Linked DNA regions of Homo sapiens: region 2 is linked to region 1. Evidence: fine-mapped expression QTL. A gene starts in region 1. The other region holds a variant in brackets. All regions are shown on one strand. Distances are between the middles of the regions. Region 1 holds the start of CCDC25 (coiled-coil domain containing 25). Region 2 overlaps ESCO2 (establishment of sister chromatid cohesion N-acetyltransferase 2).

Evidence for each region.
Region 2: its variant is fine-mapped to the expression of CCDC25 in whole blood (TOPMed, PIP above 0.99). The same link has a PIP of 0.9 or more in blood mononuclear cells.

Annotation. Positions count from the first base shown.
Region 1 is chr8:27,763,919-27,781,230 of GRCh38, forward strand. It overlaps CCDC25 (coiled-coil domain containing 25), which reads right to left and starts at 8,722. Exons shown (of 9, transcript NM_018246.3): 1 at 8,595-8,722; 2 at 1,286-1,333. The coding sequence starts at 8,622. ESCO2 (establishment of sister chromatid cohesion N-acetyltransferase 2) reads left to right here and starts at 10,636. Exons shown (of 11, transcript NM_001017420.3): 1 at 10,636-10,689; 2 at 11,581-11,649; 3 at 12,444-13,251; 4 at 16,256-16,349. The coding sequence starts at 11,597. It also overlaps the pseudogene RNU6-1276P. RefSeq lists enhancers at 8,406-8,715, 10,264-10,413 and a silencer at 10,524-10,693.
Region 2 is chr8:27,789,101-27,798,921 of GRCh38, forward strand. ESCO2 (establishment of sister chromatid cohesion N-acetyltransferase 2) reads left to right here. Exons shown (of 11, transcript NM_001017420.3): 8 at 2,863-2,952; 9 at 3,568-3,711. Among named protein-coding and RNA genes, the nearest start is that of ESCO2, 19 kb to the left of the region's middle. The variant A/G (reference allele first, on the strand shown) is at 5,412.

The sequences.
Region 1 (17,312 bases):
AGTAGGACTGAGCAAATAGCCAAAAGGTAAGCAAAAAAAGGAAAGAGAAATTTAAAAAATCTCTTTCCCTCAGTCAGGCAAAGTTTGGCTCCCTGATGACACCTGCTGGCTGATAAAAAGAACAGACCTGAAAGCTTTTCAGTGAAAGTAAATCATTCCACTTAAATTGATGTTTCTATCGAGTTCTTGGTCTGAAGTCATAAACACTATTAGAAATAAATGTAATGGGCTAGGAATGCCAGACAATGGGGTGATTTAGAGAAGTAATGTCCGTTCTTACAAGGCAACCTAGGAAAAGTTGATACCTCCAAATGACTCTAAGAGTTCCCAGGGAAAAAGTGTTCCATACATACATACATTCACTTACTTCAGACAACAGATTCTCGCTGTCTCTTAAGCTGGAATGCAGTGGCATGATCACAGCTCACTGCAGCCTACCTCCCAGGCTCAAGCGATCTTCCTGCCTCAGCCTCCAGAGTAGCAAGGACAACAGGTGTGTGTCACTATGCCCAGCTAATATTTTCTTTTATTGTTGTTTTTTGTAGAGACAGGGTCTCCCTATGTTGCTCAGGCAGGTCTCGAACTCCTGGGCTCAAGTGATCCTCTCGCCTCAGCCTGTCAAAGTGTTGGGATTACAGGCGTGAACCACCATGCCTGGCCTCTTACGTTTTTTTCTACAAAGGTTTTTAATGACAGCAAAATGCCACTCCAGAGGGCTCTAAAAATATCATCTAAATTTATATCTGTGACATAAATTATGTATCTAGATTTGTATCTATATATTCCTACAATAGACATTCAAAGGATTCCACAATCTAGTCCATCCTAACCCACTCCTCCACAAAGCCTTCTCAGCTTTCAATCACATTTACTATCTCTGATCTGTCTACTTCGACAGCATTTACTATTCATGTTACTTCATTTTGTCTATACTTTTTAAAAAATAGACCTTAGTACTTTTTCATGATAATAAAGTTGTGACATTAACTTTGGGTGTGATTTAATGGTGAAGCAGTCTGCAGCATATTAACACTTGAGTTTTACATTTCTCCTACTAACCCATAAATCATCACAAGTAACATTGATAGTTAAAGCATTTTTCTTATGTAGCTTAGGAGGTGCTGCTGTCTCCCTATGTGAGCTTGTTCTGTTTCTCAAAAGCTAGTTTATCAAAGTAGGTGAAAACTCAGAACCAACAAACTGGGTGGGGGGCATGGAAGGTGGTGAGTGAGAGATAACACTTACCTGCTGAAAATTTCAAAATCAAATGCTTTTGAAAACTTACTTTCATATTTATCTTTTCCCATGTAAATAGTGTAGGCAGATGAATTAACTAAGATAAAACAAAAATAAAAAACAATTAGTAACTTCATCACCAACAAAATTGTTTCATGTGAAAAACAAGTGACAATTCTTAGACTAGGGGCTGGCAAACCATGGCCCATGATCCAAATCCAGCCTACCACCTGTTTTTGGACAGCCCTTGAGCTAAGAATGGTTTTTACGTTTTTAAAGGGTTGGAAAAAAAGCAAAACAAAGAAGAATAAGCCACGGAGATTGTAGGTGACTCACAAAGCCTAAAATATTTACTATCTGGCCCCAAAAGAGAAAGTTTACCATCCTTACTAATAGCTACTTTCCTACTTTCTCAGGGTTACAGTTCAATGGTATCGCCAGTCCAGTCCTATACTTTTGCCTTCTTTAAGAGTTAAAAAAAAAAGAAAAGAAAAGAAAACTAAACACCACAACTAAGTTCCCATGTTTACCAAAGTTTTATTGTGCATAATTGTTTTTAGCCAATATTACCCATATTCCAGGTGTGCTGCATATTCTAACAGGCTCTCTATCACATTCAGGGAGACCATGACTCTCCAACTTCTAAACCAGTGACTCTGACCCCTGATCTACATTAGAATCATCTAATTATGCCCCAGCTCCACCTCAGATCAACTCAATCCAAATCTCTGGTGGGCAAGAGTGAGCATCTGTGTTTTCTAAAAGCCTTCCAAGTGATTCTAATATAAGGTCAGGGTTAGAAACAACTATCCTAACTCAAATGGAATCTTCTGGGTATGGTTTATCCTAGAAATGATATTTGCTTTACCAAGGTGGTGTTTTATTGCAGACGTCCCTACCTTGGATTCCTACTGAAAGGATAACTGAGTGCCAGGTTTCAAAGCTAGTTTACCAAAACTTGTTTGATCCAATTGGACTAAACTCCTGAATTCATAGACACTGGGCCCTCAGGCTACAAAGCCTGTGATGGAGAAGTACTGAAAAATAAATACACACTGAAGCAAAGTACTGATAAGTGCAGGGTTGGGCTGAACAGCCTGCTGGCTATCACTCCACAGCACAGAACACACACATGTACCTGGAGCCCTGAAGGACAAAGGGCAATACGCTCTCCTAAATTAAAAAGCCTTATATCAGAGAGATGCCCTGTACTTTCAGTAATGAGAAGCTTCTTAAATGATCAATCCTAGTTGCCTTTCTCGGGGGAGAGAAAACTAATTCCTTTGTTTAACATTTATAATAACTGAAGTCCAGAAGTAGTTGAGAAAAGTACCTTGAAAGAATGTGTGCATCGCCAAGTTTATAGAAATGCTTGTCTATTATTGAGCATTGTAGTACCTTGATCAGGCCTTAGTGTAGCGTGTAACAAATGCCAAAAGGGTGGGAATAAAACTAAAAAGCATTTCAGATTTTCTCTGCATGGCCTGGCAATAGTTCAAGTGTATACCCTTTCAATCCTATAACGTCACTACCTATAATGTTACCATAATAGAGTACCAAAATACTCCACCAAGCAATAATCTTTTTACAACCTAAACATCCCTTAATAGAGACTCTTTAAATATATTACAGATTTGAACATCCATAAACAAAATACCATGTACCCATTAAAAAGAAACGGCAGGTGAAGAAATTAAATATCCGAACAGTATTTTTGTGTATCTATATGATTCAATTTATAAAAAATAAATGATTATAATGGTATGTGTGTGTATATACATACACATACATGTTTTATTTTTATATAAGCACATACTTCATATGTATGGAAGCATAAACATTTTTTAACAACAGTTACCTTGGTTAGCCTGCTATAAAACATACAGATGGCTTTTGTAATTAGAACAGAATTTTCAAAATAACAATATAGGCCAGGTGCAGTGGCTCACACCTGTAATCCCAGCACTTCAGGAGGCCGCGGTGGGCAGATCACTTGAGGCCAGAAGTTTGAGACCAGCCCGGCCAACATGTTGAAACCCCATCTCTACTAAAAATACAAAAATTAGCCAGGTGTGGTGGCACACGCCAGTGGTTCCAGCTACTGGAGAGGCTCAGGCATGAGGATTGCTTGAACCTGGGAGGCAGAGGTTGCAGCGAGCCAAGATCATGCCACTGCACTCCAGCCTGAGTGACAGCAAGACTGTCTCAAAAAAGAAAAAATAATAACTGATATAAAATATTAATAAAGTTGTCTCTGCAGGCCAAGCTGTCTAAGCTACAGCCAAAATAATAATAGAGGAATGTTTTGATGGTTGACTTATTAAATGAGGTGATTAAGAAAATGGCCATAACAAACCTAAAGTGAGGGGCATTCTACAAAATAATTCAACTAACAATGCCATGAAAGACAAAGACTGAGCAATTGCTCGCGATTAGAGGAGGCTACAGAATAATGACACCTGAAGAATGCAACAATGATTTGTAAGGTATTTTTTGTTACAAATACATCATTAGGACACTAATGGGTACGGAATAAAGCCTGTTGATTAGATAATCGCATTGCTGCAATGTTAATTTCCTAATTTTGATGATGAAAAACGTCTTTTGAGAAGAGAATGCCCTTGATTTTAGAAAATAAATCTGAAGCATTCAGGGGTTAACTGCAACTTACAAACGTTTCAGGAAAAAGGTGTGTGCAAGAGAAAAAAATAGAGAAAAAGAGAAACGGAAAAAGAAAGACAAGGCATGTAGTAAAATGTCAGAATTTGTAGTCACAGTGGCTCACGTCTGTAATCCCACCACTTTGGGAGGCTGAGGCAGGTGGATTACTTGGGCCCAGGAGCTCGGGACCATCCTGGGCAATATGAGGAAACCCTGTCTCTATAAAAAAAAAATTTTTTTAATTAGCTGGGTGTGGTGGCTAAAGTGGGAGGATCACTTGAGCCCAAGAAGTTGAGGCTGCAATGATCTGTGACTGCACCACTACACTTGCCACTACACTTCGGCCTGGGTGACAGAGCAAGACTGTCTCAAAAAAAATTGGGGGACTCTGGGAGAATATACAGGAAATCTTTTACTATACTTGCAACTTCTCTGAAAGACTGAAATTATGTCATAATAGAAAATTAGTCTGGGCGCAGTGGCTCATGCATGTAATCCCAACACTTTGGGAGGCTGAAGCGGGAGGATCACTTGAGGCCAGGAGTTCAAGACCAGCCTGGCCAATATGGCGAAACCCTGTCTCCACTAAAAATTCAAAAATTAGTCAGCCGTAGTAGCACATGCCTGTAATCCCAGCTACTAAGGAGGCTGAGGCAAGAGAATCGCTTGAACCTAGGAGGCAGAAGTCGCAGTGAGTCGAGATCATGCCACTGCACTCCAGCCTGGGAGACAGAGCAAGACTCCATCTCAAAAAAAAAAAAAAAAGAAAAGAAAATGAAAAATAAAAAGGAACATCATTGCTGCACAACAAGTCTGAATTAAGTTCCTTTCCATGTTAAGAAGGAAAAGTAAACTGAATTATTCTAGTTCATTTGTTATTCTCATCTAAATAATATGGTTGATTAGTACTGGAACCGGTTATTTGGAAGACACTTGACTTACGGGTAGCAACCAACCCAACTTCAGAGGTGATCTGATTATTTCACAATTTATAGAACAATCTACTTTTAGGCAGATGATATTAACAGGTATTAAAAGTACAAGTGGACTTTGAGCCAAGTATCTATAATCAGATGGTCTTAAATGTGACACTGGACTTATTAGACTAATGTTCAATTATTCCCTTATGAGACAGCATGAAAGAATGAAAATGGAACACATTTTAGTCAGATATTAATCTTAAAATGTAAAAGAACAACTTCCTATGAAGATTTTCTTCCCATTTTAAAAAAGTTTTTATGCAGTAAAAACCATCAGTTAGTTAAAAACTTGGCAAGCCATACAAATTCATTTCCTGAAGATTCTATATATTTGTTGTTTCTATACTGCCAATATGTAAAGTCTCATTACTATTTTACTGAGAAAGTTATGATTTTTCCATTAACTTTGCAGTTTTAAAAGATCAGCTGCACAAGTGCACTTTTATTAGGCTTAGAGGCCAAATATTTTTCTAACAGGAAACAGTTCTGACATTATAATGGAAGTCAATGAAAAAAAAACAGGACCCACAAATCTAGTGAAGCATTTTGCTCTATTAAGGGCAGATGTGTATGTGTGACTAACACTTAAAGAATTCAGAGTAACTTTAAGGGGAATAGAACAGCACAAAATACATTCAGTACCTATACACCCTGCCTGTATATTTGTTTTTCCATTGTTGGGTTTATATGGATATCTATGTTGTTGAAGATTCACAACTGGAGAAGTTATAAAGAGATGCCTGAGTTGCCAAGGACGAAAATGCTTAGAGGCCTATAAGGGTATATGATTTTTCAGGCTGGTTTTGAATTTTGTTTCTAGTAATTTTAATAATATGGGTAAAACAAACCACATGTACAGAGACAGAGAAATAGCTCATGGCACACACTGTGGAAGGCTAAACTACTGAGAAAAATAAGGAGATGTCAGTGTGATGAAGGTGGAAGAGTAGGGTCTGTGAGTTACAACTTCCCTGAGCCTCAATCTTACTTCTAAAGAGAAAGTATTGCCTTATTCAAACCCACACAAACAATGTGGAACTAGTTTCACTTAAATCTTACCTTTTGGCTGAGCGTGGTGATTCACGCCTTTAATCCTAGCACTTTGGAAGGCCGAGGCGGGTGGATCACTTGAGGTAAGGAGTTCGAGACTAGCCTGGCCAATATGGTGAAACCCCGTTTCTACTAACAAAATACAAAAATTAGCCACGCATGGTGGCGTGTGCCTGTAATCCCAGCTACTTGGGAGACTGAGGCAGTAGAATTGCTTGAACCCAGGAGGTAGAGGTTGCAGTGAACTGAGATCACACCACCGTACTCTAGCCCGAGTGACAGAGGGAGACTCCATCTCAAAAAAACAAAAAACAAAACAAAACAAAAACTCACCTTTTGTAATTCCAGCACTTTGGGAGGTTAAGGTGGGTAGATCACTTGAGCTCAGGAGTTCAAGACCAGCCTGAGCAACATGATGAAACCCCATCTTTACTAAAAATACAAAAATCAGCCAGGCATGTTGGCTGGTCCCTGTAATCCTAGCTGTACCAGAATCGCTTGAACCCAGGAGATGGAGGTTGCAGTAAGCTGAGATCGTGCCACTGCACTCTAGCCTGGGTGACAAAGCAAGACTCCGTCTCAAAAATAAATAAAATAAATCTCACCTTTAGACCGGGCGCAGTGGCTCATGCTGGTAATCCCAGCACTTTGGGAGGCTGAGGCAGGCAGATCACCTGAGGTCGGGAGTTCAAGACCAGCCTGACCAACATGGAGAAACCCCGTCTCTACTAAAAAAATACAAAATTAGCCAGGCTTGGTGGCGCATTCCTGTAATCCCAGCTACACAGGAGGCTGAGGCAGCAGAATCGCTTGAACCCGGGAGGCAGAGGTTGCAGTGAGCCGAGATCGTGCCATTGCACTCCAGCCTGGGCAACAAGAGCAAAACTCCGTCTCCAAAAAAAAAAAAAACAAAAACAAAAACAAAAAACTCACCTTTAACAAGCATATAGAGTAGCAATAGAATAGAAAGTGCTATAAGTAAGTAAAAAAATGGCATTCATTTATTCAACAAGCATTTATTGAGAACTACTAACCAGTCACTACGTTAGGGAAACAAGTACAGTAGTCCCCCCTTATCTGTGGGGGATGTCTTCCAAGATCTCCAGCAGATGCCTGAAACCGAGGACAACACTGAATTCCATATATAAAGGGACTTGCCACATAATGATGCTTTGGTCAGCAACAAACCACACATACTATGGTGGTCCCATAACATTATAACGAAGCTGAAAAATTCTGATCACTATTGCCTGATGACCTGGTAGCCATCATAACAGCGTGGTGCAACTCACTTTTTCTACGTTGAGACCCGTTTAAATACACAAACACCATTGCGTTACCATTGCCTACAGCCATTCAGTACAGCAACGTGCTGTACAAGTTTGTACCCTAGGAGCAACGGTATACTGTACAGCCTACATTTGTGGTAGGCTATACCACAGGTTTAAGTATACTCTACCGTGTTGCTACAACAATGAAACCGCCTAATGGAGCATTTCTCAGAATGTATTCTTGTCATTAAGGGACGCATGGCTACTGGTATTCCCTATATATGTATACCTATGATAAAGTTAATGTATCAGTTCGGTGGAGTAAGAGATTATTGACAATAACTAATAATAAAATAGAACGATTATAACAACGTACTGTAATAAAAGTTAGGTGACTCTGCTCTCTCTCTCTCTCAAAACCTTATTGTACTGTACTCACTCCTTTTCTTCTTGTGATGATGTGACCACGGAAAGCGAAATACAGGACAAGTAGGGACTACTGTAAAGAGATCCTGTCCACGCCCTCAAGGGACTTACACTCTAGCTCAAGCAGACACCATTTAATACCACGTGATAAGTGCAATGCCAAAGGCATACTTGGAACGTTAAGTGGGTCCCAGGAAAGGAATAGCTAAGCAATCTTGGGGTAGGAGCTAGCATCAGGAAAGGCATCTTGGAAAAGATGGGCCAAAACTGTCTTAAGGGAATTAGCTGGGGGTTGATTTTAGGAAAGGGGAATAACAGGAACAGAACGAAACCAAGTCGGGACACTGCATTTCCTGGGAACGAAGGGCACCCTTTCCTTATCTGTCAAAGATAAGTCAGAAGCATTACCATAGGTCACTTCTGAGATCTGGGACATCAACTGCCCGGAGAGTGGCTGGGTGGACATCCCAGGGTCTTTTTATTGTTTTCTGTTGCATCCCAGACCCTACAACCCCTTCCTGAAAGGGTAAGTCGCGCTTCCCTTAAGAAAAAGTTGTTAGCAGGTGTCTCCTTTCTCACAGGGGATAATTACAAGGGTTCAGCCAGAACAAAGGCCGCAGATGGAAGGTGGGAAGAAGACTTGGGATAAGGTGTGTGGAGGAGCCCACAGGCTCTGCCCAATCCCAGGGAGTGACGGGACGTCTTTCCGATTAGGGGACGAGAACTCCCCGATACAAACATAGCAGTGGCATCGCCCCTCCGCGCCCCCCACGCCATGACGAGGGGACGCCGGGGGAAATCCTGCAGCCGTGGGAGGGACGGATGTGCTGGGGGACCGAGAGGCCGCGGGAAGAGGCACTCGCATCCAGAAGGCATTTTAGAGCGAGGGTCAGGCGCAGCGGCGGACTGCGGGTCCCGGCTTCGGAGCCCGCTGTCCAGCAGGGTCCAGGAGGACGTGGCGCCCACTCACCGCTGCTGCTGGTGAAGTAGAACACCATGATCCCGGGAGCGGTGCGGTGACTCCACCGCGGAGCAGCAGCGCTCAACTCACGAAGCTCAGGATACCAGACTCGCGGCGGCCGCCTGGCCCCCGGAACTCCTCCGTGCACTTCCGGCGGACGTCGGGGCGCGTCATAACGCCGGCCGTGGGCGCCATTTTTAATCCTGGCGAGGCGAAGTGTAGTGGCAAGGAGTTTGGTTCAGTGATTTGTGGGTTAAGGGAAAGAGGCTGGGCATCTTGGGCACGTTAGTTAACCTGTCTGTGCTTCACTTTCCTCAGCAGCGAAATGAAGATGATACTAGAGCAGCTAACTCACAGGATATTTTTTAGGGTTAAATAAGTTAATGGGCGCCAAGGGTTTAGAACATAGCACACAAACGAGTTGTTTCTGATACTCACCAGGACAATATGCCTCTTGGGGATTGGACTTTGTTCTGGCTTAAATCGAAGGCCTGCCATCCCAAACCTCTGAACCTCAGAGGTCCTCCTGCTATAAAGTAGGAATAATCATATTCATGTAAAGCTCCTACAGCACTTGGCTTTGCCCTGATTATTTCTCTTGAGAAAGCACTTTTATCTGAGGAATGTGAGTCCCTTTAAATTACTAGGTCTGGAGAGGCATTAAGATAAGACCCCATCATGTTCTACCACCCCCTTGAGCTATGTATTCATCTACTGAAACTACCTGCTTCTGCCACAGGTAGCTACCTACTAACCTAACACTGCCACACAAGACACTATGACATGACCCACACCCTATAGTTTAACAATGTCTAGCCAATCACTGATGCTTGTAGTTTCTATACATCAATGAGAATGCTTGACAGTTGTGTATCAGCCCACTTCCTGCCCCCCTTCTTCGTCTTTAAAAACCTGCTTGTAGCAAAGGCCAGACAGAGCTCATATCCAAGCCTGCTGGTGGAGGGCGGTGGGGGGAGGGGGGTTGGAATCTTCTGGGCAGCTGTCCCCGCTTTAACTCAAGCAAACTCTACATTCTTTTTTTTTTTGCCTCAGCCTTTTCCTTTTAAACTGACACTCTTACATCACTGTCACTGACTTCATTCTATGAAATTGAGGGCGTCACTTAACGAAATTTATTTACATGCTTGCTTTGACAGCATGTATACTAAAATTGGAATGATACAGAGAACTTTAACATGGCCCCTGCTCAAGGATGACATACAAATTTGTGAAAATTAAATTTGAAAAAATAAACATAAAACTCTAAACTTATTTGAAACTAAAAATGTGCCAGAAACACTGTACCAGGAGCTGGTGACACAAAGATAGTAACAATAGCTAACAATAACCGTTTTAGGAACTTTCTGGTTTTCCAAAGTAAGAATTTAGCTCTGTTCTGTAAATAGCAATTGTTTTGGGTTCTCCGTTGTATTATTTGTAAAATGGGAATGGCAATAGATATTAATGCCTTACAGATTGTGGTAAGAAGTAAATGAAACAAAACATGTAAAGCATCTAAGAATGCCTGGCACATAGCAGGTGTTAAGTTTTATATTTTAATTTGAAAAATAAATAGAAACCTAAAGTTACTAATAAAAAAAGTGAAACTGACAATGAAGCTTCAAATGTGAAAAATAAGTGCATCGAGAATCTTGGAGAGGCCTTTATTTATTTATTTATTTATTTATTTTTGAGACGGAGTCTTGCTCTGTCGCCAGGCTGGAGAGGCCATTTTACAAAAATTTCTTACCCCGTGACCCCAGAATGTATCTCAACTTCAACTGGACCGAGAACTACAATTCCCAGAATGCACCTAAACAAGGCCCCGGGAACGGAGTCCGGCGTTGCTGCAGGGGATTGTGGGTGGCGTGGTTTCCCTCAGAGATTTTTCACCTCACCAGGGCGCGAGAATCTTGGAAACAGCCACCAGGGTGGGCGGGGCAAGGGCTGGTGCTCCACCAATCACCGAGCCAGCCCCTGGAAGCGCTGAGCCGTGGCCAATCGGAACGCAGCGGCTTCCTCCTAGCCTGGCGCGCGATTATTTGAAGACGCTCACGGAGCGGCTGGCTAGGCTGAGGAGAGCTCGCCGGGCTCTGAGGCGCAGGTAACCTCTGGAGTAGGCCGAGGCGGGGGGCTGTGGAAGGCTGAGGCGAGCGGGAGACCCTGTGGAACGTGGGGGCGAATGTCACGGGGAAAGAGCTTTTGCTCGGCGCTCGGCAGGTCCGCAGGCCCGAGACCGAAGAAGCCACTGACTCGTTCTCCGCGCTCACAGGCGCCGGGTTTCCCTCTTCCCGACGCCGGCGTTTCCTTGTTTTGGGTTTAGGGTTTGTTTGTTTGTTTGTTTCCCTGACCGGGTTCAGGGTCGGGACGCTTTCCTCTCCTACCTTTCCTCGCTTAGCCCCAGAGGGGTCCCCCCTTAAGCCGCAGCTCGACCTGAATTCCCAGAGACCCTGGCCTTTCAGTTTGTTCATTCATTAATAGCTTTGAAATAACGCTTGTGTGCTGCTTTGGGGGGAATTTCCCTGATCCCAGGGAAGGGGAAGGAAATGAATTCTGACGAGCCACGTAGCCGCCTGCTCGTGCATTCTAGCATTTGTTTTCAGCAGCCTTACGACTTCAAGAGATTTTTATAAAAAGGGAAGCAAACGGCTTGCTCCGGGCTCATCAGCTAGGAAAATGGCAGAGGACTGTGCTTCACCCGTTTTCTTGCTGGGCTCTGATGAAAAGTTACAGACGGTCTCTGCCTTCATTGAAGGCTGTTGAGATGGGGAAACAAGAAAATGTCTTAAATGGACTATTAGGGAAATACAGGGTGCCATGGAAGCAGAACAAGCGCGTGTAACCCTTGGAGGGGTGGAAGGAGAGCAATGTCGAGGAAGACCTCCCAGAAAATAGGGTTTTAACTTGGTGTGAAATAGACTAATTAAAGGGGGTATAATTTTGATAAAGCGATTTTTAATATTTTGATGAATGTGGTTATTGTCATTTCTTTTAGGAATTCAATAAAGAAAATGGCAGCTCTTACTCCAAGGAAGAGGAAGCAGGATTCTTTGAAGTGTGACAGGTGAATCTCAGCCTGTGAATAGAAACTCTTAGAAAAATCCACCTTCTTGTCTCTCTTGTTCTCTCCTATTTTCTAAAATTTTCGTTCTTCCACTAGCCTACTCCTTGTGGCTACAGTGATAACCTGATAACCTATATTCTAATTCTAGCTTGGAAATACATTAAGTTTTCATAATGAATTATTTAGTCCTTTTCAAGGGAATCAAAGCTGTTTTTTAGTTTTTGTTTTTTTCTTTTGACATAGAAGCAGCACATTGAAGAAAGCTGTTTTCTATAGCTAGGAAATATACCAAATCAGCTATTACCTTTTTCCTTTCTGTTCCCCTATAATATTTTACAGTGTTTTGCATACAGTAGATGCTTGTCTGGAAACAATTCTAGAAAGACTGTGTACTCAGATATTAATTACTCTACCCAGGAAAAGCCCCAGGGGGTCAGTTCATTACAGACAGTTATTATAGGGGGCTTGTAAACAATAGAGCAAAATATATGAGCTATAATTTATATATGGCCAACACATAGAAATCGATTTTAAAACATACATGCATATATGTCTATCATAGCTTCTTTGTATATAGTATTTGTTTTCATGAACTCTTTGGGAAGATATTTGAATGTTTTATTTGATAAAGACAGAATTTGAGAATCCTACTGTTAAACTAATAGAAAATTGTGTGTATGGGGGGTACATGTATTGTTTTTAATATGACCTACAAGTAGAGCTTACTTAGCAGTAGATTTATGTAAATTTTGACGCAAAATAATCTTATCAATGGACTTTGTTTCTTTTTATAGCCTTTTACACTTCACTGAAAATCTGTTTCCATCACCTAATAAAAAGCACTGTTTTTATCAAAACAGTGATAAAAATGAAGAAAACCTGCATTGCTCTCAACAAGAGCATTTTGTTTTAAGTGCGCTCAAAACAACTGAAATAAATAGACTGCCATCAGCAAATCAAGGCTCACCATTTAAATCTGCGCTCTCCACTGTATCTTTTTACAACCAAAATAAGTGGTACCTCAATCCACTGGAGAGAAAGCTGATAAAAGAGAGTAGATCTACTTGTCTAAAAACTAATGATGAAGATAAATCTTTTCCCATTGTGACAGAAAAAATGCAAGGAAAACCAGTCTGCTCCAAGAAGAACAACAAAAAACCACAGAAGAGTTTAACTGCTAAGTATCAACCAAAGTATAGACACATCAAGCCTGTATCAAGGAATTCTAGAAATTCCAAGCAAAATCGAGTGATCTATAAGCCAATTGTGGAGAAGGAAAATAATTGTCATTCAGCTGAAAATAATTCCAATGCTCCTCGGGTTCTGAGCCAAAAAATAAAACCACAAGTTACACTCCAGGGTGGAGCAGCATTTTTTGTTAGAAAAAAATCTTCTCTTAGAAAATCGTCCCTGGAAAATGAGCCGTCACTGGGACGCACCCAAAAGAGTAAATCAGAAGTCATTGAAGATTCTGATGTAGAGACTGTCAGTGAAAAAAAAACTTTTGCGACAAGGCAAGTGCCAAAGTGCTTGGTCCTAGAAGAGAAATTGAAAATTGGACTACTGAGTGCAAGCAGTAAAAATAAAGAGAAATTAATAAAGGTAAAGCTAAATATATCACTTTAAAAATGGCTGTATAACAAAACTTCAGTATAAATGACATAGTTGAATAAAATTTTATTTTCTGGACTGCTTTTATAAAGCCAGATAGCATAGTGTTTAGTTACTGTAAGGAGTTTATTTATTTATTTATTTTAAGACAGGGTCTTTCTTTATGACCCAGGCTGTAGTGCAGTGGCACACTGCTCACTACAGCCTCAACCTCCTAGGCTCAAGCAATCCCACCTCAGCCTCCCAAGTAGCTGGTACTATAGATGCACACCACCTCACCCGGCTAATTCTTGCATTTTTTGTAGAGGCTGGGGTTTCACCATGTTGCCCAGGCTGGTCTCGCACTGCTGGGCTATAGTGATCCACCTGCCTCACCCTCCCAAATTGCTGGGATTATGGGTGTGAACCACTGCACCTGGCCCAGCCACATTTTAAGTTCTCAATAGTTACATGTAGCTGGTGGCTACCATATTAGACCATGCTGGTCTAGAACTTCTGTTGCTGACCTCCTGTTTATATCCTTCATCAGAAAAAAAGTTGAGTTTTGTGGGGCAGCTAGGGGCAGAAAGCCATTGAAGCAACCTTAAGAGAGGTTGTCTCCAGATCAGGGCTTCCATGTATGGTGGCTTGTTTATATTCATCACAACCCTTGTAGCTGGAGAAATGATAGGCTTATATGATACCCAGTACACTCAGGCTTATAGTCATGTCTTTCCTAACCCACCTCTCATCATTGCCTTCCTCACTAGTTTCTCTCAAATTCAACCCCAGTCCATATCTCTCGTAATCACCTAAATTTCAAACCTCAGTGGCAAAGATAATAAATTGGTGGCCAGTAAACCAAATCTCACCCATAAATGTTTTGCTTGGCCTACATAATTTAAAAGTTGGAGCCAAAATTATTTTTAAATACAAGAAAAACATTTCTGGTGTCTCATGAAATATTGAAAGCTGAGCCTTCATTTCTACATGGCAATAATCAGAGCTGAATATCAGGCTGAGTATCATACCATTTGACAAATATGGGTTCTTCATTTCTCTAAGTCAGTGTATATCTATCTATTTAGATCAGTTTAGTTTTGATCATTTTACTTACTGCTGCCCTTGTAAGGCATTTAAGTTTTTAGTCCTCACTGTAAATGTTTGTTTTTTTTCCTGTTTATCGAGTATGGCCAAGTAGATTGTTAAATGAGATACGTTCTTGCTAGCTAAGCCATGACAGTCTAATTTTACTAATTCATTTTCTGTTTATATCAACAAAACACTTCTGTGTCTTGATAGGGATTTTGATTACAAGAGTAAGCTTTATCAAAATGTATTAAACTGTGCTTTATACTTATACATTTGTATGAAAATTAAGTTTTTTGAAAGTTTGGGGCGTAACTCAAGCTAAAATTGTCTCAATCCAGTAAAACAAAGGAAGAGTCTGCAGTTTCCCCATGCATCTCCTGATGATTATTCTTATCTGTTTGGTACAGCCTGGTGGTGTACCAAATGAATGGTGACCTGATGAATTCTCTGTAACCAGTGTAACAGAGAATTCTGTAATTCTCTTTTCTGTCTTATTTTCTTTTTCTTAGCTTCACTTTACGGGTTTGGTATTGAGTTAGTTTTCAGTAGTTTGGGAAGCTGGGCTTTTGTGCATTTTAAATTTGTGGAACGGGGCTATGCTCTTTCAAGATTTTGCTAAATACCCATGTCTGGGATTCGTCTCTGCTAGCTAAGGGCGAATCTGATTTTCTGTTTTTTTATTTTGAGATGGAGTCTCACTCCGTTGCCCAGGCTGGAGTGCAGTGGCATGATCTCAACTCACTGCAACCTCCGCCTCCCAGGTTCAAGCAATTCTCTGCCTCAGCCTCCCAAGTAGCTGGTATTGTAGGCACCGGCCACCACACCTGGCTAATTTTTGTATTTTTAGTAGGAACGGGGTTTCACCCTCTCAGCCAGGCTGGTCTTGAACTCCTGACTTTGTGATCCACCTGCCTTGGCCACCCAAAGTGCTGGTATTACAAGTGTGAGCCACCGCGCCTGGCCGGTGAATCTGATTTTTGTGAGGATACCCTTTCCCCAACTCATGGAGCCCTGAAAAGTGTTAAACTGATGGGTTATCCCACCTCTGCTGGGATATTATGGTTTTGAGTAGAAGTTCTACTTTAACCAAGAGTTTTTTTCCTTTTTCCCCAAGCTATATATTCCCTAGTAATTCCCAAATTAGTATGAGGGAAATCTGTCAGGATTTTTTTCTACTTTGCTTTTCCCACATTCCTGCTACTCTCCAGTGACTCTAGAATGTTCTTTCCTTAGCTGCTGATTTTTAAAGTTTATGGCAAAAAGTTGTCCCTTTCCAGTTTGGTGGCTGCTGGGGAAACTTTTGCCATTTTTACTGGCTTTTTTGTTCATTTCATTATGGAAGTGATGGTCTGTAATCATTCTGCCATCTCTGTCAGGAAGTATAACACATTTTTGAGAGGATGACAGATTACAACACGTGTACTCTGGCTTTTTTTTCTTTTGAGACAGTCTTGCTCTGTTGCCAGGCTGGAGTGCAGTGGCACGATCTTGGCTCACTGCAACCTCCGCCTCCTGGGTTCAAGCAATTCTCCTGCCTCAGCCTCCCGAGTAGCTGGGACTGCAGGTGCCACCACGCCCAGCTAATTTTTGTATTTTTAGTAGAGATAGGGTTTCACCATGTTAGCCAGGATGGTCTCAATCCCTTGACCTCGCAATCTACCCACCTCGGCCTCCCAAAGTGCTGGCATTACAGGCATGAGCCACCGGGCCCTGCTGTACTCTGGCTTTAAAGGTAATGTACGCTTAGTGAATACAGGGGAAGTTTTCCTAAAAATAGTTTGAAAATTGATTGAAAATCACATTATGAAATGTAATTCATAATAAACCAAATCTTTTGTTTTAGAAATAGATCTGCTGGGATTCATTCACTAGAAAATAGTTAAAAATTACAGATGTTTGGTTTTTTTTTTAAACCTATTTTCAGGATTCATCAGATGACAGAGTTTCTTCAAAGGAACATAAAGTTGATAAAAATGAGGCTTTTTCTTCAGAGGATTCTCTTGGTGAGAATAAGACAAGTAAGAGAAAACTCGCATGAATTTAGCTGCTTAAAATAATGCTTTATTACATACATTATACAATAATAATTCTTGTAATTTCTGGGTCTTTCTTTTTTCAGTAGCGTGCCTGTGGTTAGTATCTTTGTTTATCTCTGTGACACTGTTTTCTGTAGTAAAGCAGTGCATTGCGTTTTGAAAAACAAGAAACAAGGAGATCCTAGGTTAAAATTTTAGACAAAATATTAGGCTTAATTGGTCTATGGCTGTGGCCAAGTTACTTAAGCTCTCTAGAGTTGAGTGTTCTCATTATAAAATCATACCTACTCTATCTTTCACCCAAAATAATAGAAGTTAAAACTATTATGTATATTTGTGATCAAAGCCCAATTGTGAGCAGAACTTACTAAGTTTTATAAGTGACACTGAAATTAAGCATCAAGAACCATGGATTTTTGTCTAGGTTTACTAATAATTAGCTGTATGATCTAGGAAGATATCTCTAAAGAGTTAAAGTTAATTTTTAAATTCCTGTCAATTCTGAAATCCTATTCCTAATTTATGCTGTCAGTGTTCAATTAAATAGCTTACTAAACTATGAATACATAAAGCTTTTTTTTATGATTCTGAGATATGATGTTAATAACTAGTATTTACTGAGTGCTGAATATAAGGCAGTGCTAAATATTTAGTATACGTTATGTTTTTCATAGATTGTGCTCAAAGCACTGATACAATAGAAAATATAACAAAAAGGCATCTACTTAAAATAGTTATAAATTTTTCTTTTAAAATATATTTTAGTACATTGTCTAAGTCAATTTAAAGAAAAATAGTGAATAAAAATAATACAAATGGTATAAGGATATGGGAGAAATCATAAAAGTAATATAAAAAGACCAAAACTTTATTACTTAATAACTACAGTTTATCATTTAATTCTCCCTACTACTCTAGGTCCTGATATGCCCATTTATAGATGAG
Region 2 (9,821 bases), 21 kb after region 1:
TATCTCAATTTAAGATAAATATTTTGTAAACACTGCATTCTGAGCAGAGCTGAACAGTCCAGATATACAAAATTCAGAGACTGCAGAGATACTCTCTTCCCACTATAGTGTTGTCTTTATAGGTAGCCTTAGGAAAAAAATAGCCTTCCCATGACTTCTCCAGGTTTTTTCTGAGAGGAGAGGTCCCACCCATTTATTAAACACCTTTCAAGTCCAAACACATCCTATCATTGGCCCTATCTTTATGATTGTACCTGCTACTCAGATACATTCCTTTTTCCCTATTTTTATTGCCACGGTTAATGCCTTCACAATATTTTTAGCCTGTTTATTGAAATGGCTTGCTTTCTGGGTTCCCATAGTGCTACCAGAAATAACGTTTTAAAACATAAGTCTAGGCCGGGTGCAGTGACTCACTCCTGTAATCCCAGCATTTTGGGAGGCCGAGGTGGGTGGATCACCTGAGGTCAGGAGTTTGAGACCAGCCTGCCCAACATGGCGAAAACCTGTCTCTACTAAAAATACAAAAAATTAGCCAGGCGTGGTGGCGGGTGCCTGTAATCCCAGCTACTCGGGAGGCTGAGGCAGGAGAATCGCCTGAACCCAGGAGGTGGAGGTTGCAGTGAGCCAAGATTGTGCCACTGCACTCTAGCCTGGGTGACAAGAGCAAAACTCCATCTCAAAAAAAAAAAAAAAAAGCCATAGATGAAACATAAGTCTAGTATGATTCTACATACTTCTGGAAAGAAAAAGTTCCCACCAGAAGTTTGGTGCTCTTTAATCTGGCCTCAACCTTTCCTATATATGTGCATATAAAATACATACAAAAGAGAAAGTGTGTATGTGTGTAGTTTAAATTCTTGCCCTCTCTGATCTGATCTCTACATCAGCCAGAAAGTTCTTTCTAAAACATAGGTTCTGACATTGTCTGCTTCAAATTTGACAGCTTTCTGTTGCACTAGGAATAAAACCCAGACTCCTTACCTTGGCTGACAGATCTCTTCATATTTGGCCCCTGCCCACCTTGTCACATGACACATTCCCTCTCCAGCTCTAAGCTCCTGCCGCTGGAATAAGCCACATTCTCTGATGAAGCCAGACTATACCATACGGGATTTCTTTCTTTAATTTGTGGAAACATACTGGGCATGTTATCCTTTATATATTTTGAATATCATTCCTGGGTTACAAATACATTCTCCCTGTCCCTTTTTTTAAGGTTTGAATTTATATTTTTGATATAGTAATACTTTCACATGATTCAAATTTCACAGAATGCAAAAGTATATCCAGTGAAAAGTGTTTCTCCATACCCCTTCCAGAAACCTCGTTCCCCTATCTATAGGCATCCAGCATTAACAGATTCATCTATATATCTTTCAGAGATATTTTCTGCATATACAAGCAAATACCATTACTTGGATTTTTTTAACCTTTTTGTGGTGTATATTGCTACAAAGAAAACATTTTTATTTAGCTAGTTTGTGACCTTTGGTTTCTTAAGTCAGGAACATCATCTCAGTCCCAAAATTAGTAAGTTTTTCCTATATTTAAAAAAATTTATAGCTATAAATTTTATATTTAGACATTTAATCCACTGGAATTTTTTCAAGACATAGTGTTAGAGATGGATCCTTATATTTTTCCTAAAGGACTGCAAAGTGTGCCAACATTACTGTTTGACTAGTTTATCTTCCACACTGATTAGCAATGCCACGTTTAATGCATACCAAATTCCCACATATAAATGGGTTTGTTATTGGACACTTCTGCACCATCCATTTGTTCCTGTGCTAGTGCCATACTTTTATAAATGTAGCTTCATACTGTATAGTTAGGTAAGTTCCCTTTCATCCTTCTCTGTAAAAAATGTCTTGACTTTTTCTGCACATTTACTCTTTCAATTAAAAAGCCTATCACATTCCCCCCAAATGAAAAACCTATTCGAATTTTTATTCAAACTAGTCAAACTAATGCCATTTTCTCTAGAGAAAAAAAATCTTAGTATAACTTAGGAACTTAGTATAGCACATACTATTATATAAACTTAGTATATACTGTAGTATAAACCTAGTGTATACTTAGAAACTTAGTATACCTCTGATTGATTCATATCTTTGATGTCTTTCAGGAACATTTTATAGTTTTGTCATGGATCTTATTAAATTTATTTCTAATATTTCAACCTCATTTTTTCCAATCAGTCAGTTATACCAGATTTTTTTGCCATTCTCTGCACCTTTGCTTATTCAGTTAGTTGCCTTAGCCTGAAGGCAAGTTAACCACCTTCCCCATTATGCTCACTGACATCTTACCAAGGTTTTTAAACCCTTTTCAGTACCATAATATTTCAGTATCATTCAAAGACTAGGGCCACATGCCAAAGCACTATGCTGGGGGTTGAGATTAAAATAGTTGTAAGACTGCACCCATCTGTGGTCTTGTCAAGCATAAGGGACAAACGTATAAGGACTTTTACTTAGCCTTTTCTTGGAATTTGGCTTATTCTTCTACCCCTCCCCTACCTGCCCACTGGTCTTGAACTCCTGACCTCAAGTGATCCACCCACCCGGGCCTCCCAAAGTGCTAGGATTACAGGTGTGAGCCACCGCACCTTTACCTCTTTACCTTGTTTTATAGTCATATACATGTCTTCAGATAGGATATCAGCTTGTTGAGGCCAGATACCTGTTTTAGGCATCTTTTATTTCTCTTCCCACATTACTTTTAGTTGGATTTCATCTTCTTCTTTTTATATCTATTATTGTTTAGCCTTTTGTCTTCTCCACATCAAATTATTTAATGTTGGTTTTTTTTCCTCTTCACAAATTAAACTGTGACCCTTTTGTTTTCCTTTGGCAGGGTTGGAAGAAAGAACGTGTAGTAGCAGAGTTTTGGGATGGGAAAATCGTGTTGGTTCTGCCACATGATCCAAGCTTTGCTATCAAAAAGGTATGGAACATTATCTTTTTATCTCTTGCCTTTCCCCACCCCCAAGAAATCAACCTATGTTGAAGTGCAAACTGCCTTTGCTGACAGATAATTCACTTGGGTACCTGCTTAATGATTACTTTCATAGCAATTTATACAAAACTAAGAATTGTAGGACAAAGGAGTAAAGAAGGCAGATAAGGCTCCACAGCTTATCTTTTATATTCATCTTTCCCTTGTGAAAGATAAACTAAGCTTTCAATGTTGAGAAATTAATGGCCCCCAGGGTCTATTTCTTATATTGGTGTTGCTTGTGTTTCTGAGGTTGAATGTTTAGCCACCGTGAATAATGAATAAAGCTAAAACAAATCTGTTTTAATGCTTCCTATTCCTTATCCCTCCCAGGTGTCTCAATTTCTGCTGAAAGTGATCTTTAAAATAGGTTCTTAAAACCTTGTTTCCACAGTAGCAGCTACATGCATCAATAGTGAAATAATTTTGGAGGTGTATAAATTTAAGAAATAGAAATTAAAGAGGCTAAAGTAACAGTAATCATACATTCTGTGTATATAAATATGTATAGTTTCTATTGTACTTTTTAAAACATTCACCTGTCTTGGTTTTTAAAATCATTAGGTAGAAGATGTCCAAGAACTTGTTGATAATGAATTGGGCTTCCAGCAAGTTGTTCCTAAATGTCCAAACAAAATAAAAACTTTTCTTTTTATATCTGATGAAAAGAGAGTAGTTGGGTGTTTAATTGCAGAACCCATCAAACAGGTATGGTATATTTGTTTTAAATTATTGGCATAATTTGCAGGCAAAATAAAGAAAAGTTGGGAGAAGTCTCAGCATTTAAGATTGCTACCATTAATGACACTCTTCCTACTGAAATATCCTTGACCTAGTGGATAATTGAAGTTATTTATTTCCATTAATATTTGGAATTTTGCTTTGTATAAACAGGATAGGTAAGCCAGTCTTTTATGTTCATGTAGTCATTAACACAGCTGGATTATAAAGTCTAGTGATTTTAAGTAAACAAATCTATAAACTGAAATTTTTAAACATGTGGCTTAGTGAAGGTTAATATTTTTGGCAAAATAGTCATTACTTATCCCTTAATTAGAATCTAATTTAGGTACTAATTAGCAATGTTCTAGAAGACATGTAGTTTCTCCTTGTGTTATTAGAAGTTGGAGAGAAAAGCAGCTTTTTTGTATTTTTGCCAGTATAAGTGATCAGTTTGGCCTTTTCCTTCCCCCTCAGCTTTATTAAGGTATAACTGACAAAAATTGCAAATATTTACAGTGTACATGTGATATTTTGATATAGGTATACATTGTAAAATGACTAAATCAAGCTAATATAGCTATACCTCACATACTTACCAACTTATTGTGATGAGAACATTAAATCTACTCTCCTTGCAATTTTCTTTTTCTTTGTTTTTTTTTTTTTTTTTCTTTTTTTGAGACCAAGTCTCACTCTTTTGCCCAGGCTGGAGTGCAGTGGCACGATCTCGCCTCACCACAACCTCCACCTCCTGGGTTCAGGCAATTCTCCTGCCTCAGCCTCCCAAGTAGCTGGGACTACAGCCGCGTGCCACCATGCCTGGCTAATTTTTGTATTTTTAGTAGAGACGGGGTTTCACTATGTTGTCCAGGCTGATCTTGAACTCCTGACCTCCTGATCCACCTGCCTCAGCCTCCCAAATTGCTGGGATTACAGGCATGAGCCACCGCACCCGGCCTTTAGCAATTTTCAAGTATACATTAGCTGCAGTCATGCCATACAATAGATCTGCAGAACTTACTCATGCGAACTTAAACTTTGTACCCTTTACCAACGTTTCCCCATTTCTCCCATCTCTCACTCCCCCAGCCTCTGGCAACCACCATTCTACTCTGCTTCTATGAAGTCAACTTCTTTAGATTCAGTATGTAAGTGAGATGTTGCACTATTTTTCTTTTTTGCTTGACTGATTTCACTTAGCATGATGTCCTCCAGGTTCATTCATGTTGTTGCAAATGTCAGGATTTCCTTTTTAAAGGCTGAATAGTATTCCACCTGTATATGTACCACATTTTCTTTATTCATTCATCCATTGATGGACACTTAACGTTGATTACATATCTTGGCTATGAATAATGCTGCCATGAACATGAGAGTACAGATTTCTCTTCAACATACTGATTTCAGTTCCTTTGGATATACACTCAGAAGTGGGATTGCTGCATATGGTAGTTGCATTTTTATAGTAATCATTCTAACAGGCGTGAGGTGATCTTGTTTTAATTTGCATTTCCTTGATGAATTAGTAATGTTGAATGAGCATTTTTTCATATGTCTGTTCCTGATTTGTATGTCTTCTTTTGAAAAATATCTATTCTGGTTCTTTGCCCATTTTTTAATCAGAGTATTTGTTTTCTTGGTATTGGGTTATTTATATATTTTGGATATTATCCCCTATTGTATAC[A/G]CAAATTTTTTTTCCAATCAGTAGGTTGGTTAGTTTGTGTTTATCCACTCTGTACTATGCAGAAACTTTTCAGTTTGATGTTACATTTATTTCTTCTTTTATTGCCCACATTTTTGGGGTCATAGCCAAAAAATTATTGCCCAGACCGATGTCAAGCTTTTTTCTCATTTTTTTCCTTATAGTTTTACAGTTTCAGGTCCCTCATTTTAAGTCTTTCATCCATTTTGAGTTGATTTTTGTATGTGGTTTGAGATAAGTCTCCAATGTTATTCTTCTGTTTGTGGATATTCATTTTTCCCGACACCATTTATTGAAGAGACTGTGTCCTTGCCCCATTGTTTGTTCTTGGCATGTTTGTCAGACACCAGTTGACTCTAAATGCCTGGATTTATTTTATCTGTTTTGTTCCATTGGCTGCTGTGTTTTTTAATGCCAGTAGGAGTGCAGTGCCCCTCAGCTTTACTCTTTGGTCTAGATTGCTTTGGCCGTTTGGAATCTCTTATGGTTCCACAAGATTTTAGGACTGTTTTTTGTATTTTTGTGGAAATGCCATTAGAATTTTGATAGGGATTGCATTGCATTTGTAGATTGCTTTGGGTAGTATGGACATTTTAACGATATTAATTCTTTCAAGCCATGAACACTGGATATCCTTCCATTTATGTAGATATTCTTCATCTTCTTTCATCAGTGTTTTCTGGTCTTCAGTGTATGGATTTTCACCTCCTTGGTTAAATGTATTCATAAGTGGGGTTTTTTATGCTATTATAAGTGGATTGTCTTCTTGACTTCTTTTTAAGATAGATCATAGTTTGTTTTTCCTGTATAGAAACACTACTGACTTTTGTATGTTGATTTTGTATCCTGCACCTTTTCTGCATTTGTTTATTCTAATAGTTTTTTTGGTGGAGGCTTTAGGGTTTTCTGTACATAAGTTCATGTCATTTGCAAACAGATGATTTAACTTCTTCCTTTAAATTTGAATGCCTTTCTTTTTTCTTCCTAATTGCTCTGGCGAGGAATTCCAGAACTATGTAGAATAGAAATGATGAGAGTTAGCATCCTTGTCTTGTTCCTGATTAAGAGGAAAAGATTTCCACTTTTCATTGCTAAGTATGATGTTAGTTGTGGGCTTGTGATATATGGCCTTTAGTATATTGAGGTACATTCCTTCTGTACCTAATTTGTTGAGAGTTCTTATCATGAAAGGATGTTGGATGCCTTTTCTGTATTGAGATGATCATATAGTTTTGTTCTTCATTCTGTTAATATGGTGTAACACATTGATGTGCATGTATTGAGCCATCCTTGCATCCAGGGATAAAGTCCACTGGATCATGGTGTACTATGCTTTTAATGTGCTAGTTTGCATCTGTTTATCAGGGATATTGGCTGGTAACTTCTCTTGTAGTGTCCTTTTCTGGCTTTGGTATCAGATTAATCTGGCCTTGCAAAATGACTTTGGAGGTATTCTTCAGTTTTTTGGAAGAGTTTGAGGATTAGTATTAGTTCTTTAAATATCTGGTAGAATTTAGCAGTGATGTCATTACAGATGGGCTTTCCTATGATGCAAGTTTTTTTTTTTTTCTTAAACTGATTGAATCTCCTTTTTATTGGTTAGTTTAGATTTTCTGTTTCTTCATGATTTGGTATAGGTAGGTTGTATGCTTCTAGGAATTTATTTCTTATAGGTTACCTAATTTGTTGATATATGATTATTCATAGTCTCTTACGATCCTTTGTACTTCTGTGATAATCAGTTGTAATGTCTCCTCTTTCATTTGTGATTTTGTTTAGTTGAGTCTTCTTTTTTCTTAGTCTAGCTAAAGGTTTGTCAATTATCTTTCAAAAAACCAACTCTTCATTTTGCGAATCTTTTCTATTTTTTGAGTCCCTGTTTAATTTATCTCCACTGATCTTTATTTTCTTCCTTCTACTAACTTTGGGCTTTATTCTTCTTTTTCTAATTATTTGAGGTGTAACGTTAGGCTACTTGAGATCTTTCTTCTTTTTTTATGTAGAACTGCTTTTGCTGCATTCCATAGGTTTTGGTGTGTTGTGTTTCCATTTTCATTTGTCTCAAGAAATTTGTCAATTTCCCTTTTAATTTCTTTGATCCATTGGTTGTTCAGGAGCATGTGGTTTAATTTTCACATATTTGTCAGTTTTCTACTTTTCCTCCCGTCATTGATCTCTAATTTTATACTGCTATGAATGTTCTGTGTGCACTTGAAAAGAGTGTGCATTCATTCCGCTGCTATTGGATGGAATACTATATGTGTTTCTGTTAGGTCCATTAGGTCTGAAGTGTAAGTTCAGTGTTTACTGGCTGAACTCAGTGGCTCACACCTGTAATCCCAACACTTTGGGAGGCTGAGGCAGGAGGATAGCTTGAGGCTAAGAGTTCAAGAACAGCCTGGGCAACATAGTGAGACCCTGTCTTTACAAAAATTAGCCAGGCATGGTAGTGCATGCCTATAGTCACAGGTACCTAGGAGGCTGAGGCAGGAAGATTACTTGAGCCCAGGAGTTCGAAGCTGCAGTGTGCTATGATCGCACCAGTGCACTCCGCTCAGGGCAATAGTGAGACCCTATCTCTTAAGAAAGAAAAAAAAAGTTCATTTCCTTATTGATTTTCTGTCTGGACGATGTATCCATTGTTGAAAGTAGGATCTTGAAGTCCCCTACAATTTTGTATTCCTATCTATTTCTCCTTTCAGAATCCTAAATATTTATATATTTAGGTGCTCCAATGTTAGATGCATATGTATTTACAACTGTTTTATCTTAATGAATTGACCCTTTTATTATATAATTACCTTCTTTGTCTCTTGATGGTTTTTGACTTAAAATCTATTTTGTATGATGTAAGTGTAGGTACTTCCTGTTCTCTTTCGGTTTCCATTTGCATGGAGTCGTTTTTCTGACCCTTCACTTTCAGTCTATGTGAGTCTTTTGTAGGCAATATTTAGTTGAGTCTTGTGTTTTTATCCATTTAGCCACTCTGTGTGTCTTGATTGGCAAACATATTCTATTTACACTTAAAGTAATTATTGATAAATAAGGATTTACTATTGCCATTTTGTTTTGTTTTCTGGTTGTTTTATATATATTCCCTTCTTCCTCTCTTGCTGTCTTCCTTGGGATTTGATGATTTTCTGTAGTGGTGTGCTTTGATTTCTTTATCTTTTATGTATCTACTATAGGTTTTCGCTTTATGGTCATGAGGCTTACATAAAATATCCTATAATATAACAGCCTATTTTAAGCTGATAACAATTTATATCACCTACAAAAGCTCTGCACTTTTTTTCCCTTCAACATTACTAATTTTACAGTTTACATCTTTTTATGTTGTGTATTTATTTAAGAGGCCTTTTCCTTCTTCGATCTCAAAGAAGTAGACTGTTATGTCCTGATAATAGGCAAGATGTAGCTAACTAACTGTTCTCTTCTACTCTCAGGTCAGAAACAATGTTGTGTTGTTCGTAATTAAAAACTAAATACACACCTGTCAGAAGGGTAACAGTAGGTAAAGAATTGAGACAATACCAAATGCTAGTGAGGATATGGGGAAACCAGATCTCTCACACCTTGTTAGTAGGAATGTAAAATATTACAGCCACTCTGGAAAAAGTTTTGAAGTTTCTTTAAAAACTAAACATAGGCCAGGCGCAGTGGCTCACACCTGTAATCCTAGCACTTTGGGAGGCCAAGGCAGGTGGATCACCTGAGGTCAGGTTCGAGATCAGCCTGACCAACATGCTGAAACCCCCCGCCTCTACTAAAAATACAAAAATTAGCTGGGCGTGGTGGTGCATGCCTGTAATCCCAGCTACTTGGGAGGTTGAGGCAGGAGAATCACTTGAACCCAGGAGGTGGAGGTTGCAGTGAGCGAGATCGTGCCACTGCAATCCAGCCTGGGCCACAGAGTGAGACTCCGTCTCTTTAAAAAAAAAAAAAACTAAACATGTATTTACTATATGATCCAGCCATTGTTCTCCTGGGCATTTAAGTAAAACAAAGGAAAACTGATGTACACACAAAAACCTGTACAAGAATGTTAATAGCAGCTTTATTAGTAATAGCCAAAACCTGGTAACAACCAAAGTGTCCTTAAATGCTTTAGGTGAATGATAAGCTATGATACAGCCATATGATGGAATATTACTTAGCTATAAAAAGTAACAAAGAATTGATACACTTAACAACTTGGATGAGTCTCAGGGGCATTATGCTGAGTGGGAAAAAGCCAATCTCAAAAGGTCATATGGTATATGATTTCATTTATATAATATATAACATTCTCATAGCCATGGGGAATAAATTGGTGGTTGTCAGGGACTGAGGATGGGAGAGGGGGTAGTGTGGATGTGACTATAATGAGGAAGAAGATCTTTGTGGTGACTC